Linked DNA regions of Homo sapiens: region 2 is linked to region 1. The links come from fine-mapping of genetic effects on gene expression. A gene starts in region 1. The other region holds a variant in brackets. All regions are shown on one strand. Distances are between the middles of the regions.

Region 1 (5,367 bases):
TGCTAAGACCTTGCACTCAAGCCCTCACTGCCTGCCTTAGGTCAGAGTGTGGGTGCAGGCATGCTTTTAATCCACCAGGGGTCCTGGTGACTGGAATTAAGGATACCAGCCTCCTATTTTATTCCTCACCCCTTCTCCAGGGCCCCTGTACCAAGTCTCAGGAATAAACCACTCACCTGTTTCCCCCAAACAGTCCAGCCCAGGGCTGCTGGCTGAGACTGGTTCCTGCTGCCTGGTGTATTAGGTAGTCCCTGACCTGGGAGGCTGTTATCTGCCATTCTCTAAGCTGTCTGGTAAAGTGACCCAAGTTATCATGGGAGAAGGACAAATTTTACTTCAAGAATTTTTTATGTTTCCAACCAAAAGGGACCTCAGAGATCAAATCTAACCCAGTGACTGGCAGGGGGTGGGTGCTCAGTAAGTAATTTTTAATCAGTAAATAAACGAATGAGTCTGGGTGCAGTGGCTCACGCCTGTAATCCCAACAGTTTTGGAGGCCGAGGCGGGTGGATCACCTGAGCTCGGGAGTTTGAGACTAGCCTGACCAATATGGTGAAACCCCATTTCTACTAAAAATACAAAAATTAGCCAGGCGTGGTGGCGGGTGCCTGTAATCCCAAGAAATCAGGAGGCTGAGGAAGGAGAATTGTTTGAACCTGGGAGGTGGAGACTGCAGTGAGCCGAGATCCACCACTGCACTCCAGCCTGGGTGACAGAGGGAGACCCTGTCTCAAAAAAATAAAAATAAAATAAACAAATGAATGGGTGGGTGACCACAGGAGAGAAGGAGCACAAGGCCAGGTTCTTTTTGTGCAGAAAGTGTGATTCCTTCATCAAGGTGTCCTCTTCCTAGCTTGTGATCTTAGTTCATGCCAAACTTTCCCTCTGACCCCTCCACCACCCTCATCAGGATAGACCTTGAGGCCTTCAGTGGTCTCATCAGCCCTATTTTTAAATAATTTGTTTTCTTTTTAAAAGTTAATGTGTCTTTTTTTTTTTTTTTTTCTGAGACAGGGTCTCACTCCTGTCACCCAGGCTGGATTGCAGTGGCGTGATCGCAGCTCACTGCGGCCTCGACTTCCCAGGCTCAAGTGATTCTCCCACCTCAGCTTCCTAAATAGCTAGGACTACAGCTTCCCAAGTAGCTGGCACATGCCGCCACATCCAGCCATTTTTTTTTTGTGTGTATATATATAGATAGATAGATAGATCCGCCACATCCAGCCATTTTTTTGTGTGTGTATATATAGATAGAGAGAGAGAGAGAGAGAGAGGGAGATGGGGGTCTCACTATGTGGCCCATTCTGGTCTCAAACTCCTGGGTTCAAGCAATCCACCTGCCTCGGCCTCCCAAAGTGCTGGGATTACAGGCGTGAGCCATCACAGCTGGCCTTCAGTATCTGCACATAAAAAGGGATCTGCATACATATAATCTTATCCTTCCCCTTTCTGACACATCACTGCATATTGAATACACCAGTGTGCACCCTAATCAATCTTCATTACCAGTTCACTTGGAAGCCTTCCGGGCAGTGTTGTAGAAGCCAACCCTAATCAGCGTGACCCTCCGCTTTGGGATGAAATTGATTCTAGGTAGGGTTGACAGAGGGTTGAGCGTGGCAGCCTTTCCCCTTGTCCTCTGTGCCCTCTGGGTCATGCTCATTCCCCTCCACAGCCCAGCCCAACAACTCGGAGAGGGCTGCCTGGGTAGGAGAGACGGCAGCCCCCAGAGCTGTCCTGGACTCCCTTCTCATCTCTCCCCACAGGCAATTTCTAAACCGGGATGACATTGGCATCATCCTCATCAACCAGTACATCGCAGAGATGGTGCGGCATGCCCTGGACGCCCACCAGCAGTCCATCCCCGCTGTCCTGGAGATCCCCTCCAAGGAGCACCCATATGACGCCGCCAAGGACTCCATCCTGCGCAGGGCCAGGGGCATGTTCACTGCCGAAGACCTGCGCTAGGGGACTCCTCATAGCCCTCAGCCCTTCCCTCGTTTCCAGGCCTCTCCCCAGGCTTGCCATCAGCCTTCTTTACTTTTTGAGCCTCTGATTTCCAATTCCCTGCTCCTTCCCACTCCATTAAGAGGCTAGGTGAGGCGCTTCTAGGTTGCTGGGGCTCTGCTGGTTAAGGAACAGGAAGCCTGACCATCTCCCTCCACTACCTCTTCCCTGTGCTGTTACACAGTGTCATTGTTGATGTTAAATTAAAGTCATATTCTTGCTTCTCTCCAGATGGGTTGGGTGCTGGAAAGGACATGTGTGGGGTGAGGCCATGGGGCAGATTCGGTTGGCAAGGATGGAAAAGGTGCTGCCAAAGACAGGCATAGAAGAGGTGGCCCAGGAGGATTGTGCCGGGAGGCAGAACTCAAGGACTGGTCCTTGGATCAGAGAAGACCAGCTCTGGTCTGGGGAGGAATGGGAGGAGGCTTGAGCCCAGCTCCTGCTTCCCCCACCTTGCTCGGCATTGGGCTGGGAAGGGGGCCAGATCCAAAGGACAGAAGCAGAAAGCACACGAAACCTGGGAGTCTGTGATGCCAGATCCCGCGAGGGCCCTGCGGGAGTTTTGGGGGGAGCAGGGCTCTTAACCAGTGGGCCCTGGCCTCAGGCTGCCTCAGGAAGCCAGGCTCATGGGGTCTGCTGGGGGCATGGCAAGTAGAACCCTGGCCCTGTGTGAGGTGAGGCATGGTTGCCAGGTGACTGTGCCTGGGCAGCCACTCGCCGTCAGAAGCACTCTGCTTGCTGTGCTCACCCCTCAGCTGTGGCCACCCTGGTGCCACTCCTTCCCTGGCCACCATGTCACGGCAGCTCAACATAGACGCGTTACGGCAGAACTTCTGGAAGGAGGAATATCTGAGGGAAAAGATGTTGCGCTGTGAATGGTACCGCAAGTATGGGTCGATGGTGAAGGCCAAGCAGAAGGCTAAGGCTGCAGCCCGCCTGCCCCTCAAACTGCCCACCCTGCACCCCAAAGCCCCACTCTCACCCCCACCCGCCCCCAAGTCAGCCCCTTCCAAGGTGCCCAGCCCTGTCCCAGAGGCGCCTTTTCAGTCGGAAATGTACCCGGTACCACCTATCACCCGAGCCCTGCTGTATGAAGGCATCTCCCACGACTTCCAGGGGCGGTACCGCTACCTCAACACTCGAAAACTGGACATGCCAGAGACGCGATACCTCTTCCCCATCACCACCAGCTTCACGTATGGCTGGCAGCTGGGTGAGCCCAACCTCTTGGAAATCACCTCAAAAACAGAGCACTAGCCATGTGCTAGGGAGTGGGCATCCTGGTGAAGGGTCCAGACTATAAACAGAGCAAGGAGATGGCCAAGAAGTGTCGACACGTTCCACAGAACTAGGGAGTGGCGGTGGGCAGGGAGGCAGCGGCCACGTGCTGCTATTTATTGGATTGTCAGGAAAGGCCTTTCTGAGGACCCGAGGCTGAGAGCCAGATGATAAGGATGGGTTTGGATTTTATTTGTTGTGCAGGGAAGCTGATGGAGGGTTCTAAGCAGATTTCAAGAGTGACACTGGTGAACCTTTTAAAAAGTCACCCTGACCTGTATGTAGGCAGTGGCTTTTTCAGGGGAAATGGTAGAATCTGGCACATGAGTTGGGCATCTGTTTGGTTATCCTGTGGTAGTGGCCTGAGGGATCAGCAATAGAGCTGAAATCAATTCAGGATGTTTTGGGGGAAGACTCGGTGGAACTCACCCATGGATAGAATGTGAGAATAAGGGGAAGAGAGATCAATCACCCAGGTGTTTGTTTAGCTAAAGCTGCAGTGACAGGGAAGACTGGGAGAGGTCAGGGCTGGAGCGTGCATGAACAGGTCCTATTTAGCCATGTGTGTTTGGCTATGTTATGCTTGAAGTGTCTGTAGGGTGGCTGTGTCTATAAGTCTGGATTGAAGTCAGAGCTGAAGATGCAAATTCGGAGGTCATTGGAATATAGGTGCTTTTTTTTTTTCTTTTTCTTTTTGAAACAGTCTGACTCTGTCACCCAGGCTGGAATGCAGTGGCACGATCTTGGCTCACTGCAACCTCTGCCTCCCAGGTTCAAGAGATTCTTCTGCCTCAGCCTCCCGAGTAGCTGGGACTGCAGGCGTGTGTCACCACGCCCAGCTAATTTTTGTTTTTTTAGTAGAGACAGGGTTTCACCATATTGGCCAGGCTGGTCTCGAACTGCTGACCTCGTAATCTGCCTGTCTCGGCCTCCCAAAGTTCTGGGATTACAGGCATGAGCCACCGGCTGGCCTATAGGTGCTATTTAAATCCATGAGATCTCCTAGGGAGCTCAAGTTGCTGGAATCTGATGGGAGTGGGGGCAGGAGGGCTGAGCCAGAGCGGGTAGGGGATGTCATTGGCAGGAAGCCTGTCCATCTCGGCTGAGTCTTTTTTCTGTGAGGTTGAGTCAAGGCCATCAGCGGGGAGGGAGCTGAGCTGAGGCAGTGGAGTAACTAGAGATGAAGAGGAAAGGTGTGGAACAGGCATGTGCCAGGCAGGGCTGCTGGGCGATGTTGCTGCACGTCCCATTGCTGTCTGTGCTCATGAATGTCAAGTGAGACTCCTCAGCCCTGTACCCTTCTCCAGCTGCTTGAGTGTCTTGCAGAAAAGGTGGATGGTTGGGGATTGACTCAGTTGAGATTTTGCCCCCAAACATCCCTTTCCCCCAGGCCCCTAAAGGGGAAGTCAGGGAAATAACTTTCTAACAAAAGCAGGAGGCGAGCCCTAGAAGCGGGGAGCAGGAGGCCGAAGGAAATCTCATCTCTCCACAGTCTGTCCCTGTGACAAGCAGGCTAGGGTGGCCCCCCTCCCTGCAGGTAGAGGATCCTGAAGCTAGGGTAATGATGGCAGATGGCTGCTGTATCCTGGCATCCAGCCAGCTCCCAGTATTTGCCCATAGCTCCCATTCCTCCAAAGCACTTTCTATTTCTTCCCACAAAGTGGCTACTCCACTGACGGATTCCTAGGGCTGTGCAGACAGACAGGGCTCCCATGCTCTGCGTGTCCCTCCCTCAGGAACCCATGCTTGGCCTCTGACATCTTTTCCCAGGCCCCCCAGTGAAGCAAGAACTGGTCTCCTGCAAGATGTGCCGCATTGAGTCATTCTTCCGCAAGAACGGGGCCTTCGCACTGCTTGATCCCCGAGACCTGGCCCTCTGACCGTGGGCCAGGTGTGGGCTTAGGGGAGGGAAGAAGAAATAACAGGCCTCCTGGTGGGGCAAAGCTGCTGTGTGTGTCTGTGCCCCTCTGCTCTCCCTGTCCCTGAGGTTGCATTCAGGCCTTTCTGAAACTATCAGACCTGCAAGTTGCCCTCTTGCTTTTTCCGTAACCCTCATCACTTTAATCATCCCTTTGAGGACTC
Region 2 (5,367 bases), 51 kb after region 1:
CTGGAATATGAGGAGGGGATGCACAAGGGCTCCCGACGGGCTGGTAAAATCTCACAGCCAACCCCAGGGCCCCAGTGGAGTCCCAGGCGACAGTCCCCTCACTCCAGGAGCTGCAAGGCTTTGGTACCAGGGGGCTGCTAGGGGAGGAAGTGCCACAGCAGTCCTAGTAAGAGTGGCCAGACGGCAGGCGCCCTGCTGCCTCCAGGGTTGTTCTGGGTCGCATGTCTCCTTGCAAACCCACACCCAGCTCAGGGAGAGGACAAAGGTTTTGCTGCATTGGGCCTGATCCTAAATCCCACCCCTCCAGGTGAGCTGTCCACACCCCAGGCCCTGCTGCTTGCCTGGTCCAAACAGGCTGAGGCTCTGGGGCAGCAGGTGCCCAGAAAGAAGCTTCTTTCGGCTTCCTCCGAGAGGCAAGGTGGGGGAAGACCAGGGTACAGGGGGAAAACCCCCAAGTAGGGCCTTCAGATGAAAGGGGGTGATTTCCCAGTGACTCCCTAGACTCTTGGATCCCCTCAGCCCCAGCCCCAGGCCCGACAGCTACGGGGTAGGGGGAGGATGGAGGTAGGGGGAGGGGAGGTCTTGACAGTTTTCTCTGTGGACACAGCCGGTGCACTTTCAGGCCCTGGGGACTGGGTCCACGGGGGCCCAGGCCCACTCCAGTCCTCTGCCCCCGCTCCCCGCTTCCCCTCCGCCCCCCTCCCCCCTCCCCTCCGCCCCCACCCCTCCCGCTGGCTCCGCGGGGGCACACCCCCTGGGCCAGCCCGTGGAGCCACCCTCACCCCCAGGGACGCTCCTCGGCTGCTAGAGCAGCACCCCGGTCCTCGCCCTGCTGTGTCCAGCGGGGCCGCGAGGCTGGGGAAAGTCCCCCACTCCCGCCTCTGCTCCCGGGCACCTGCTCCCGCCCTCCCGGGTCCGGAGACAACCGCTCAAGGCCAGCGCTGGTCCTCGCCATCTTCCTCCAAATCCCAGCCATGCTAGTCTCACTTTTCCTCCACGTTCAGCCTCTTCATTGTTGCCTTCTTAAGTTCTGGGACAAGACCTACAGAAACCAGCCCAGGAACTATTGCGCCCCATCCTTCTCCGCTGCTCTGGGGGCCGGCGTCTACCATTCCCGGCCGCGAGCCCAGGGACGGACGGAGCCTCTACCTGACACTATCTTCCCCCAAACTCTTGCACAATTCCTGCCATTGGCCTGAAGATCCCGGGGGATGAACGCTTTAAACCTCCACCTTTTTTTCCGAAAGGGTTAGGGTGACCCGGGAAGAGCGAGGGCGAGTGCATCGAAAGTAAGGATCGGGCCTCGCTCCTCTGTGGACCAAGCCAGCCTCCAGCAGGGCGCCTGGGAGCCCCCATTCTGGGCGATGGCGGGGTGGGGGTGGGGGGGTGGGAGCAGCAGAGCCTGCGCCCCCAGCTGCGGTGCCGACCTCGCCGCCTGGGCCTTGGGGTTCCCTGGGCGCCAGCACCTCAAACGGATCGGGGCGTGAGGGGCGCCTGGGAGGTCCCAGGCCGGCGGGGCGCGCCCTGCTGTAGGCACCCACCGAAGCTCGGTCTCCAGGCGCAGCTGGACGCGGACCCCGCCCTACTCCAGTCTTCATCCGGTCGCCCGCAGGTGCCTGAGGGGCGCGGGCCCTGGTTGAGGCCTAGACTTGTGGGTGGGCAACAGCCGGTACCGCTCCCACCACCTTCCGGACGCGGGGACGCGGGGACGCGGGGACGCGGAGAGGAGAGAGCGGCGGCCGGGACCCACCTGTCTGCGATGCTCCTGCGTGGCTGCGCCCTTGAGCACTGGTGGGGCGGCGGGGCCGAGCTGACTCTGCCCGGGCTGCGCTGGGTTCTTCTGCACCGCGCCGGCCCCGACCGGAGGGACCACTCGAGGAGGCTGGCACTTACCGGTGACTACTGACCTGGAGGGAGCATTGGGCCAGGCCCAGGGCCTGTAAGGAGACGCCAGACAGATAGCGCGGTGGCCTAGACGACCACTGGGCTTCTTCGGCAGTCTGGAACAGGGAAATAGTAATTCCATAACCTCAAATTCCGCTCCGCGCCCCGCCCCCCGACTCCCCCCAGCTCTGAAGGGTCCGCAGGTCTTCCCCAGTCCATGCTATCGTTGAGCTCTGGCACCTGAAAGAGATGGTTTCCCGGGTCAAGAGCATTAGGATGCCAGGTGGTGGCTTGCGCCTGTAATCTCAGCACTTTGGGAAGGCCAGGCAGGAGGATTGCTTGAGTCCAGAAGCTGACCAGCATGGGCAACATAAGGAGACCCAGTCCCTACAAAAATAATAAAAAGAAATTAGCCAGGCGTCATGGTGAGCGCCTGCAGTCCCAAGCTACTCTGGAGGCTGAGGCGGGAGGATCACTTGAGATGGGGAGGTCGAGACTGCAGTGAGCCATGATGGAGCCACTGTATTCTAGCCTGGGCAATACATTGAGAACCTGTCTCAAACAAAACAAAACAAAAAACATCAAGAGACGACTCGGGTTGGGGCAGGATGTCTCTTTTCTGCCTTTACACAGAGGGTAGCCCACATCCACAGAGCCAACTCATCCTCTTGCCCCTATGACATGTCCCCGCCTGGGCTGAGGTTTTGCTTCCAGAGGCCCTGCCCTCCAGGGCTCTGATGCCTGTGCAGCCACCTCAGTCTGCTCCCACAGGAAGGGACCATCACTTGCAACCAGAAGCCATGCCCAAGAGGACCCTGCCCTGAGCCAGGAGCATGCTGCCTGCACTGTGAGCCAGGTCAGCCTCCTGCCAGCCTCAGCCCCATCTCCTGCATG[T/C]CCACAGCCACGGCCTGCCACCTGAGAGTCAGCGAGCCTGGGACATGCCCAGGGGTGCCTACCCACTCACTCCTGACAGTGGCCAGGGGAGTGCAGAACCCATACACAAGTCAGCAGATACTGGCTCTGGCCTGGGACTGAGCCAGAGACCATGGGGAAACAGGCACAAAATCTTTTTCCTGCCCTCAGGGAGCCTCCAATCTAGTTGAGAAGATAAGCTCATAGCCAAGCTACCACAAGATTGAAGACCCAATGAGCAGATTAAGAGGAGGTGTAGAAGGCAGTGCAGTGTGTATTTTGCCAGAGGAGGGCACAGGAGGCAGGGGAAGCCCGTCGAGGCTGGGCAGTCAGGGGGCCTTTACAGACAATGGGTCCTTTGAGCTGGGTCTTCATGGGAAAGTGGGGTTCCACCTGAAGGAGAAGGAGTACGTGAGGGTCCTCTGGGCACAAGGACAGGGTGGAGAGAGGTGGGTTGCAGGAAGTCCATGTGGGAAGGCCAGTGGGAACAGGCTGCTGTAAGCCTTGCAATTAGGACTTTTTTCTATGGGCAGTGGGGGGTATTGAAGGCTGAAGCAGCCTGTGGCATGGTCAAGGGGGCGCTTGAGGAATATTCACCTGGTGGGGGCTAGATGCAGACAGAGGCGTCGGGGCTGTGACAGCAGTTGTCTAGGCATGGAGCCAGGGATGGCAGTGGGCTGGAGAAAGGGGGATGTTTCTAAAGGACGGGCAGGAGCCGGTGACTGGCTGGATCCCCTGGAATAGTGGAGGCCGAGCTTGGGACACTAGGATAGCAGTGGTGCCAGGGACATGAAGAGAGCTGGGAGGAAGAGGAGGTCATGGCTATGCAGGGAGGTGTTACTGGCTCATGGCGGGATAGGGTTGCCAGATTTAGCAAATAAAAATGCAGAATGTCCTGTTAAATTTGAATTTCAAATAAACAGCACAATTTTTTAGCATAAGCTCAGAGTCACAGTGGGAATAAGCTGTAGAGAATGGAATCAATTTGAGGTCCTTAGGATCCTGGGGCCTGGCCAGGCCTGTCCACACTGACCTCCAGCCAAGTAGCCTGGCCCTATCCTTGGCACGACCTACTAGGTGTTCTCCCTAGAAATGTTATCGTCATGAGAAGTCCTAGCCTCCTCGCCATCCCTGGTCACTGTGACTCTCAGCTGCTTCTTGCCCAGCTCACCCCCTGCTCTGCCCAGTCCCACACCCCAGCACCCCCACCTGCCCTCTTCATGCCTCTGTCAGAGCCCCTGAATATTGCTGGACAGCATCTCACCACTCCATTGCTTCCATGGCAGACTCGTGGCCACAAATATCAATGAGCACTGGACATTGCCAGAAATCCTCCTACAATCTCTTGGCAAATCGTTCTCCCCCTCCCTGAGAGGAGCATTTTTTTTTTAACCTTCCAATGGTTCTGCCCCTTACTTGCCATATGATCTTGGCAAGTTATTGAACCTAAGTCTCAGGTCCTCCCCTACGAAACAGGGGTAATAAGAGCACTTCTGTCTTTGCTCTCGTTAAGGATTGTCAGACTGGGTGTGATGGCTCATGCCTGTAATCCCAGCACTTTGGGAAGCTGTGGTGGGTGGATCACCTGAAGTCAGGAGTTCGAGACCAACCTGGCCAACATGGCGAAACTCTGTCTCTATTAAAAATACAAAAAGTAGCCGGGTGTGGTGGCGGGCACCTGTAATCCCAGCTACTTGGGAGGCTGAGGCAGGAGAATCACTTGAACCCAGAAGATGGAGGTTGCAGTGAGCCGAGATTAGTGCCACTACACTCCAGCCTGGGTGACAGAGTGAGACTGTCTCAAAAACAAAACAAAACAAAAACAACAACAAACAAACAAATAAAAAACGATTGTCTTAGCCTGGGTTCCTGGAAATCAGAGCCTGAGACAAAGGCTTGCATGCAGGCTGATTTTGGAATATGATCCCCAGGAGCAGGAGGGAGGATTGGAAGTGTGAAACTGGGAAGGATGGAGAGCCAATACAAGGGTGCATTATGCAATGGAGCCGACCACTGCGGTGGGCATCAGCATCCGGTCCTGCAGGACCTGGGGAGCCATGTGAAAGGCAGGCAGGCAGTAGAAGCCATCGGCACTGGGAGGCCCCCAGGGCATTAGCTTGCTCCCAGTTATGCATGAGCCAGTGCCCACATGGGTTCCCGAGGGTATCCAATGCTGTGCATCAGAGAAATTCCAAAATGAGAGAGGTAGATTTGCAGCCAGGACCTCAGGAGAGACGCTGTCAGGGTGCACTGTGTGGAGCTGCTTGCAAACTGTGTACAACTGGAATGAGGTACAGCTGAGAGGATTTGCATAAGAGATGGCCAGCACAGGTGTTAAGTAGGATAATACACACAGAAAACTTTTTACAGTGCCCAGCACATTTTAAGCACCACAATCTGTTATTATTTTCATTGTCATAATCATCATCTCCCTCTGAGGTCCAAACCGAAAAGTCAATGTTAACATTTTTTAAAAATCTGCAACAGAAGGTAAAGAAGCTTCTGGAAAACTCACCCTATAAAGTGAAAGCCCAGGGCCCTGAGGAAAGGGTGTTATTTGCAAGGCACTTG

Which allele goes with the higher level. Alleles are on the strand shown, and positions count from the first base shown. SD is a standard deviation of normalised expression in the study named.
As copies of T replace C in region 2, the expression in visceral fat of the gene that starts at base 2,720 in region 1 goes up (small effect, 0.39 SD a copy in GTEx).

Evidence for each region. PIP is the estimated chance that this variant, and not a neighbour inherited with it, causes the effect. A credible set is the group of variants that fine-mapping cannot tell apart.
Region 2: its variant is the best candidate, but not a certain one, in a credible set for the expression of SPMIP1 in visceral fat (GTEx, PIP 0.85).

What each region holds. Positions count from the first base shown.
Region 1 is chr7:128,863,611-128,868,977 of GRCh38, forward strand. SPMIP1 (sperm microtubule inner protein 1) reads left to right here and starts at 2,720. Exons shown (of 2, transcript NM_001195150.3): 1 at 2,720-3,220; 2 at 5,056-5,367. The coding sequence starts at 2,800. The coding sequence ends at 5,165. ATP6V1F (ATPase H+ transporting V1 subunit F) reads left to right here. Exons shown (of 2, transcript NM_004231.4): 2 at 1,767-2,237. The coding sequence ends at 1,968.
Region 2 is chr7:128,914,538-128,919,904 of GRCh38, forward strand. No RefSeq gene overlaps it. Among named protein-coding and RNA genes, the nearest start is that of KCP, 6.5 kb to the left of the region's middle. The variant T/C (reference allele first, on the strand shown) is at 2,779.